Regions from separate parts of the Homo sapiens genome. Here region 1 is linked to region 2. The links come from fine-mapping of genetic effects on gene expression. A gene starts in region 2. The other region holds a variant in brackets. All regions are shown on one strand. Distances are between the middles of the regions. Region 1 overlaps STX2 (syntaxin 2). Region 2 holds the start of STX2 (syntaxin 2).

Evidence for each region. PIP is the estimated chance that this variant, and not a neighbour inherited with it, causes the effect.
Region 1: its variant is the best candidate, but not a certain one, in a credible set for the expression of STX2 in blood mononuclear cells (TOPMed, PIP 0.52).

The regions. Positions count from the first base shown.
Region 1 is chr12:130,810,151-130,814,543 of GRCh38, reverse strand. It overlaps STX2 (syntaxin 2), which reads left to right. Exons shown (of 11, transcript NM_194356.4): 4 at 1,513-1,587. Among named protein-coding and RNA genes, the nearest start is that of STX2, 27 kb to the left of the region's middle. RefSeq lists an enhancer at 436-675 and a silencer at 2,678-2,861. The variant C/T (reference allele first, on the strand shown) is at 2,458.
Region 2 is chr12:130,837,407-130,841,799 of GRCh38, reverse strand. It overlaps STX2 (syntaxin 2), which reads left to right and starts at 2,550. Exons shown (of 11, transcript NM_194356.4): 1 at 2,550-2,730. The coding sequence starts at 2,701. RefSeq lists silencers at 2,347-2,856, 2,927-2,986.

The DNA of each region.
Region 1 (4,393 bases), 27 kb after region 2:
TCAGCTGGGCCTGCACACTCCTGCCCAGGCAGCCTGTAGTTGGCCTCCTCCCACGCCAGTCACTACAGCCCACCGTCCCGCTGCTCTGTGCCATAGACCCTTCTTCTGCCTGGAATGGAAGCCACCAGTCTCTCCACTCCCAGGTCAGATGTCCCCTCCTGTGGGACAGCTGCAGCAGACGCTTCTCCTCCTCGCTGCCCATGGCATTTTGTGAACCCTGTCTCGTCCGTTGTTAGTCTCTGCGTGGCATTGGCGCTTCCTGGGTTTGTCTTGTCTGTTTTTACCGAGTTGTTAGGTCCCTGGCGGTCTTGTTAGCCTCCTTAGATGACACGGGCCTGCACACAGAAAGTACTCAGTAGGTGTCACTGGTGCGTGACCTGTCACCTCTGGAGATCACTCAGTCTCTGATCTGGCTCTGAAACCCTGGACGAGCCAGGCTGCGTCTGATGACTGTAGCTGAGCATGGAAAGAAGACTTAGCACACGCTTGTGTGCAGTGGGTACTCGGGGCACCCTGCGTATGCTCAGCTGAGGGGGTGTCAGGAAGAGAGTGGGCATCTCTGAAAGCTTTCATTCTTGGCCAAGTTGTCTACGGCAGAAACGTTTGCCTTTTCCCCGGCTGATGCGTGTGAGATTGAGTGAGAGAGGCAAGTGCAGGACTCTCTAAAACGACAACAGGACTCCAGAGACGGGGCGGGGGCCTTCCTGTTTCAGCAACTTCTGCCCAAAGGAGAGAGAAACCCCCTTCCCTTCTGGTCACTTCAGCCACTGGACTGGCAAATGTGAGTGTGCGGCATGGAGCAGACATCCTGCCACCCTCCCTGGGCTCTGGGGCAGCTAGGCATGAAAGCAGAGGCTGCTATGACGCCCTGGGTGGCCTTAGGTCTCAGCACTGCCCTGGAGTGTCAGCTCCTGCTCTGCTGGCCTCCCTCCGTGTTAGGAGGCCGGCCCCTGCCTCCATCGCCCCCTGCTTGCAGCCCTGAGTGTCTGAGAAGCCAGGCCAGGGCGACCGGCCCAGCAGCCCTGAAGTGGTGGCTGTGATTATTCGGGCGTTTTGGGGAGACAGCTGACAGCACAAGAGAAAAGCACACACACGGGAGACTTTGTTGAGATCATCGTTACGTCTCCGTTTTCCTTTCCCAGGTCTAGGTGTTAGCAGTGGATTTAGGCAGCAGTTTCATTCATGGGTATAGAGCAGCAAGTCTCAAACTTGTGTCACCTGGAGGGTTTGCTAACTCAGATTGCTGGGCCACTGTCCCCACCTCAGTTTCTGAGTAGGTCCAGGGTGGGCCCCAGGGATTTGTGTTTCTACTAAGCTGCCACCTGATATTTATGAAAGCTGCTGTCTAGGGACCCACCTTGAGAACCACTGGTATAAGCGGTAGTTTTTCTTACAGAAAAAAAGTGAATATTTACTAAGGATACTGTTTCACTTAAATTTATTGGATATCATTTATGTTGGATATTATAGCTCAGATGCTGTATTTTATTTTTTAATTTTAAATTTTTATAGAAATAAAAGAAGAGCTTGAAGATCTGAACAAAGAAATCAAGAAAACTGCGAATAAAATTCGAGCCAAGTTAAAGGGTAAGTTTGAAGTTTTATGTTTAATTATTGATGTTGGGAGTATGGGTATTTGTTATTTTTTTCTTTATTGGTTTTTGTTCTTTTACATTTTTAAAAATTAAAATAGTGACTGCTTTAAAATAAATTATTTGTATGTAATTCAGAGTACTAATTAATATTCAAAAAGGTTATGTGTTTGCTTATAAACTGTTATACTGTTACATTTTTGATGACATTTCAGGCTAAGTTGCAGATGTTTGGGAAGGTGAGTTGCCAGGCTCTTCTTGAATGGACCCTTTAATTGCTCATTTCTTTCAAACTTTCTGTAGAATTTATTCGATGATGTTTGGCATTCCACTTTAGCAGCAGTAGTTTTTTGGGAGGCTTATAGCTTTGTCATGTAAAACAGGGGACTTAAACAGAGGTTGCTTTTTCTCGATTTGGTAGAAAACATGTTGTATTTGATTTTTGCAGAATGGCATCAAGATCAAAAACAATCTCTGTGCAGATGATAAAATACTTTTATTACGGCAGGTTTCAGATGTGTGCAGAAGCAGAGAGAGGCGACCACAAGCCGACCCCCCAGCTCCACAGTTCTCCATGAGCTCCCACCCGCACCCGCTCCCAGACTATTCTGAAGCCCATCCCAGGCATCTGAGATTTCATCAGTGTGTATTTCAAAAACAGAAGCTTCCCCAAAAGCACAACCACAATTATATCTAAACCCAAATTCATTATAATTACTTAATAGTACAGAATATCCAGGCAGAATTTCCCCAGTGGTCTTACGATTTTTTTTTTTTAAACAGTTTGCTTGAATTGAGTCCCAAATAAGGACCAAACCCTGGCTTTTAAAAATGAGATTCTCCCTTCATGATTTTTCTCTCTGCA[C/T]TTTTTCCTTTGGTTGGTGAAACCAGGTCATTTGTCCTACAGAATCTGCCATGCTGCAGATTTTGCTGATTTTACCTCTGCAGCACATTTAATAGGCTCTGCCGTCCTCTGAATTTGCTGTAGGTTGGTAGTTAAATTCTCCAAGCTTTATCTGATTCAGGTGTTTTTTGTGGGTTTTTAAAATGTAAAGATGCAGCATCTGATTACAGATTTTATGTCCTCATGGTTACGTTAAGATGTTAATGGTGGCCTGGCACGGTGGCTCACGCCTATAATCCCAGCACTTTGGGAGGCCGAGGCGGGTGGATCACAAGGTCAGGAGATCGAGACTTATCCTGGCTAACACGGTGAAACCCCGTCTCTACTAAAAATACAAAAAATTAGCTGGGCGCAGTGGCGGGTGCCTGTAGTCCCAGCTACTCAGGAGGCTGAGGCAGGAGAATGGCGTGAACCCAGGAGGCAGAGCTTGCAGTGAGCCGAGATCACGCCACTGCACTCCAGCCTGGGCGACAGAGCAAGATTCCATCTCAAAAAAAAAAAAAAAAAAAAAGATGTTAATGGTGACATTAACATTTTTTCTTGGCTCTAAGTAAGTTCAGTAAAATTTTAAATAAGATATAACATTCTTTTCTATTCTGTGATATTGTCAAAAATGGATGATTATTTCCAAGATCCATAATTCATTAGAAGTTGCAAGCAGTAATATCCTGATTTTTTTTTTTTTTTTTTGAGACAGAGTCTCACTCTGTCACCCAGGTTGAAGTGCAGTGGCACAATCTCGGCTCACTGCAACCTCCACCTCCTGGACTCAAGCGACTCTCCTGCCTCAGCCTCCTGAGTAGCTGGGACTACAGGCGCCCGCCACCACGCCTGGCTAATTTTTGTATTTTTAGTAGAGATGGGGTTTCGCCATGTTGGCCAGGCTGGTCTCAAACTCCTGACCTCAAATGATCCGCCAGTCTCAGCCTCCCAAAGTGCTGGGATTACAAGCATGAATATCCTGATTTTATTCTTCCTTCTTTGTTTAGTTGCTGGAATAGTTAAAAAGAAACCTTTCCCCTTCAACTCTTGAATTGGGTAGTTTGGAGAATTTAACTATGAGCCCACAGTAAATACAGAGGACAGCAGAGCTTACTGAATGTGTTGCAGGGTGAAATCAGCAAAATGTGCAGTGTGGCAGGTTCTGTAGGACGAATGACCTGGCTTCTCCAACCAAGGGAGCCAAAGCACATTCTGGGTCACAGATCATGGAGGACAGAGAGGATCAGCGTTGGACTCTCTCTCTCTCTGGTATAATTTTCATAGGTCAGTTCCCTGGGGTCCTCCAGAGATGACCAGGGAGAGTCTCTGTTGCTGCTTGTCGTCCATCATCGTGAACACATGGATTTAAACACATCTGATGTTTTCATTGCTGCATTATCCTTAATGCTCAGATGGTCTCTTTGGCTAGTAGGGTGGACTCTTGAGTCCTTTTGGTAGGCCCCTCATTGTCTGTGACAGCCTTTCCACTTTTTGCTGTGACAAAAGTCCCCATGCTCATTTCACCCCTTTCCTCCCTGGGCCTGGCATCAGCCATTTCCCCAGGAAGCCCTGCTCCTGTGTCTGAAGAATGTGATCTAGACACCGAGGTCAGCATGCTGGGGAATGTATTGCTATACATGACGATGACCTGACCATTCTTTCCTAGGCTTTTTCAGTGGACTGGGCTAAGATTTTTTTAAAAGATAAAATGAATCATGATTTGTTACTGAGAATCCAAATTAAATTAAGAATAAAGGAAGGACTAAAAATTTTTTTGAAAGGATTTTTACTTAATAAGGGCAATATTACATCTTTATTTCCTTTCAACTATGCCCCAAATTCTGGTTCTCACTGACACATAATTATTCACTTGCTATTCATAGTACACACACAACAGACTCAAAATAATTATGCC
Region 2 (4,393 bases):
CCTCAGCCTCCTGAGTAGTCTACAGGCACATGCCACCATGCCCAGCCACCCCCAAAGCGGCCATTTCAGAGGCCTACCCTCAGGGATGCTTTCTCTTTCTCAGGGATGTTCCTTGCTGAGAAAAAGAATTCAGCAATATTTCTCCCATTTGCTTTTGAAAGAAGAGAAATACGGCTCTGTTCCGCCTGGCTCACCGGCAGTCAGAGTTTAAGGTTATCTCTCTTGTTCCCTGAACATTGCTGTTATCCTGTTCTTTTTTCTAGGTGCCCAGATTTCATATTGTTCAAACACACATGCTCTACAAACAATTTGTGCAGTTAACAAAATCATCACAGGGTCCTGAGGCGACATACATCCTCCTCAGCTTACGAAGATGATGGGATTAAGAGATTAAAGTAAAGACAGGCCTAGGAAATCACAAGGGTATTGACTGGGGAAGTGATAAGTGTCCATGAAATCTTCACAATTTATGTTCAGAGATTACAGTAAAGACAGGCATAAGAAATTATAAAAGTATTAATTTGGGGAACTAATAAATGTCCATGAAATCTTCATAATTTATGTTCTTCTTCCATGGCTTCAGCCGGTCCCTCCATTCAGGGTCCCTGAATTCCCACAACGATTATTCACAACTTCATTTTTTTTCTCTGGCAGGATAAGGAAAGTTTTGAGGTTGGGCATGGTGGGCTCATGTCTGTGGTCCCTGTGCTTTTGGAGGCTGAGGTGGGAGGATTACTTGAGCCCAGGAGTTCAAGGCGGCAGTGGACTATGACCATGCCACTGCACTCCAGTCTGGGAGACAGAATAAGACTCTGTCTCAAACAAACAAACAAACAAACAAAAAGTTTTGGTTGCCAATTCAACACCATCCAGCTGCTGCCAATATTATCATATGTTTTTGAAAAATCCACTGGGAGAGAGGGAGAAACGAGGGAGGGCCCAGTATTTACCAGAGAGGGAGAATTAAAATGGTGGTGGCAGAGGCAAGAAGGCCGAAAGAAAAGCACTTGCCTGTTGCGGGGTCCAGGAGGCATTCTGGTGGGGAAGTTCAGGATATGGAGAGAAAAAACATATCTTTTTTTTTTTTTTGGAGACGGAGTCTCGCTTTACTGTCCAGGCTGGAGTGCAGTGGTGCGATCTTGGCTCACTGCAAGCTCCACCTCCCGGGTTCAAGCAATTCTCATGCATCAGCCTCCTGAGTAGCTGGGATTACAGGTGCCCGCCACCACACTCACCTGGACAACTGGCTGTCAAGACCTTCCATCGGGTAACAGAACCACATCACACCTAGAACCAAGTCCAAAACGTCCTGTTTTTTAATGTGTAGCCTGTTGCTCTCAAGCAGATTTCTTAGCGCTGCCTTCTGGTCAGACCAAAGCCACCTCCTCCAGGAGGCAGTAAAGACTTTAACCTTGTTTAAAAACAAATCTGGCCTTGCCTTCTCCTCCTGGAAGGCAATCTTTGTTTGCCTGGGAGTCTTCGGCTAGCCAGAGAGTAACAGTGTGATTTATGGTGGGGGCTTAGGGTTACATGGATATCACTTAACCAAGAGGCTGAGATCAAGCATGAAAGCAATCAAACAATCAATCAATCATGCACATGCAATGGAGCCCAGTAAACGTTCTGCACACTGTGGCTCAAGTGAGCTTCCCTGGCTGGCAGTACTTCGTGTGTAAGGCCACACATCAGTGCAGGGCAAGTAATGAGGCCTGACTACACAGGGAGAGGACCACGGGAGGACCTTGAAGCTGCACGCCGTAATCCCCAGACTCCCCCTCTGCCCTTCTTCCTTGGCTGATGTTAATCCGTATCATTTTCCTGCTAAGAAACCATAGTTGTGAGTACAGTAGTTTTTAGTGTATTCTGTGATTCCTTCTAGCAAATTATGGAACTTGAAGGTGGTTTTGGAAACCGCCAGAATTTGCCGTTGGTGTCAGAGGTGATAATGGTCTTGGGGACTGTTCCCCCAACCTGGGTAGTTCACCTAAGCTCCTGCACCTTCATGACGACCTCTCTGCCAGTTCCGTGCCCATGCCCTTACTTTCTTTTCTCATCTATCATTTATTTGTCTGTGTCTGTATTGCCTGTTTCTCCTGCCAGAATGGTATCCCAGGGCTGGGCCTGCGGACGCTCTTCCCGTTACCGCCCCCTGCCGTGTTATGCTCCGTAAGCATCATGTGTGGTACACGATCTCTTCTCCTTCATTCACACCCGAGGCTGCGCGTGGACCCTTAAAGAGAAGGTTCGGCATATGTATTACCCAAAGCTGCACCCAGCACATTCCGGGAGCTTTGCTCTTTTGTCACTATTCGTTGAATGCTCTATATTTTGATAAATAAAACAATGAGTGTGAAAGCATAAAAGCAGATCAAGGGACAAACAGCACGTGTAGCGGAACTGCCAGCCTGGGGCTCGGCCGGACCCCGCCCCTCCCCGCCTAGGCCCCGCCCCCAGGCCCCGCCCCTCCGGGCTCCCGCTGGAAAGCGCTGCCGCCGTGTGGGTGGGTGCGGGGCGCGGCGCGGGCCGGGCATGCGCAGAGCGCGCGGGGCGCGGTTGCCGTGGCAGCGCCGGCTCCAGGGAGGGCTGCTGGCGCCGGGCCGGGACCGCGGGGCCTGAGGCGGAGACCGGAGAGCCCGAGGCCCGGCCGGAGGCAGCTCGGGACAGGCTTGAGCGGCGGGGCGCGCTGCCCGGCCGGCGGGGATGCGGGACCGGCTGCCAGACCTGACGGCGGTGAGCGGCAGCCGCGGGTAGCGGTTCAGGCCCGGCCGGGGCGGCGTCTGGAGGGCGGGCGGGGGCTCGGGGCGTCTTGGGCGGGGCTCCGGGAGGGTCCCCAGGGCGGGGATCTCCGGCGTTCTGGGGCGGGGGCTGCGGGCAGGGTCTCAGGGAGTCCTGAGCGGGGACTGCTGGTGGGGTCCCCAGGGCGGGGGTCCCGGGAGTCCTAGGGTGGGGGCTCCGGGCGGGGTCCCCAGGGCTTCCTGGGCGGAGTCCTCAGGGCGGGTTGGGGCAGGAGGAGGGAGCGGGGAAGGTCCCGGCCTCGACCCCCTCTTCGAGCGTGGCTCCCTGTCCGTCACTCCGCTTGGCGGATTGTATCTGGCGCTTACCCAGCCGGAGCCCACTGGCCTAACTGTGGTCCGCCCCACGGGGTCCCCGCAGCTGGCGTCAGCCCCGGGGAGCAGGCCGGGTCCTCTTGGTCGCTGCTTTATCCCTGGGGCTTCACAAAGGACTGTGCACCAAGCGGGAGGCAACAGATGGGTGTGAAATGTGGGCACCTTAGAGTGCTGGGTGCTTGGGGTGGGGCGAGCGCGAACAGCAGCTTGTGTCTGATCTCCCAGTAGTTTGCTTTGGAAACTGGGACCGTGTGTTGACTCTGAACGCACCTTACGCGCCCAGCAGCCGGGCACACAGCAAGTTACTGTTTACTTTAGCAAGGGAAAAGCAGGTCACTAAAAATTTTGGAAGGATTTCGATGCATTCTACACGTGTAAAGGTGACAGGACTGTGCATGGTGCAGTGACAGCGGAATGATAGTGATGGTCGTGCACTTTCCAAGCTTGTCTAACCCAGGACGGCTTAGGCCAGCAGAAGTAGTTATGACTTTTTCCCTTTACAATACAGGTACTAATTCATGCTACGTGTGTGCACAGATAGAGCCTCTGGTCTCTAAATTGTTGGCAGCCTCAGAACAGGGGTGCTAAGGCCCACAGCCCTACGACACCCACTGCATGTAATGAATTATTCTCTCTCCTCTGCTGCTAGAATGGAGCTGTTATGTACCCCCGAGTGGGAGAATAGAGAAAAGAGCCACTTAAATCATTATCTGTGTTCTGTGGTTCAGATGAGGAGCTCTGGTTGAGAAAGGCAATGATTTCATCCTTAGGATCATGGAAATTATGCTTTATATTCATTCCAAGGAAGTTTCTTCACGGTGATTTTTCCTTTTTTATTAATGGACAAATATTCCCTGTGTTCCGCAGATCAATATCATCTTAAACACAGCAAATTATAGTTGTGTTGTCTTGCCCGATGGATTATCTTTCAGTGCCGTGTAGTAGGAGCTCAGGTATTTATTTAATGAAGAAAAGCTGTGGCTCACTCCTGTAATCCCAGCAGTCTGGGAGATCAGGGTGGGGGCATCACTTGAGCCCAGGTATTGGAGACCAGCTTGGGCAACACAGGGAGACACTGTTTCTCGAAAAAAATTAAAAAATTAGCAGGAGGCCAGTCGCAGTGGCTCATGCCTGTAATCCCAGCACTTTGGGAGGCCGAGTTGGGTGGACCACTTGAGGTCAGGAGTTGGAGACTAGCCTGGCCAACATGGCAAAACCCCGTTTCTACTAAAATAGCCGGATGTCATGGCGCACACCTGTAGTCCCAGCTACTCTGGAGGCTGCGG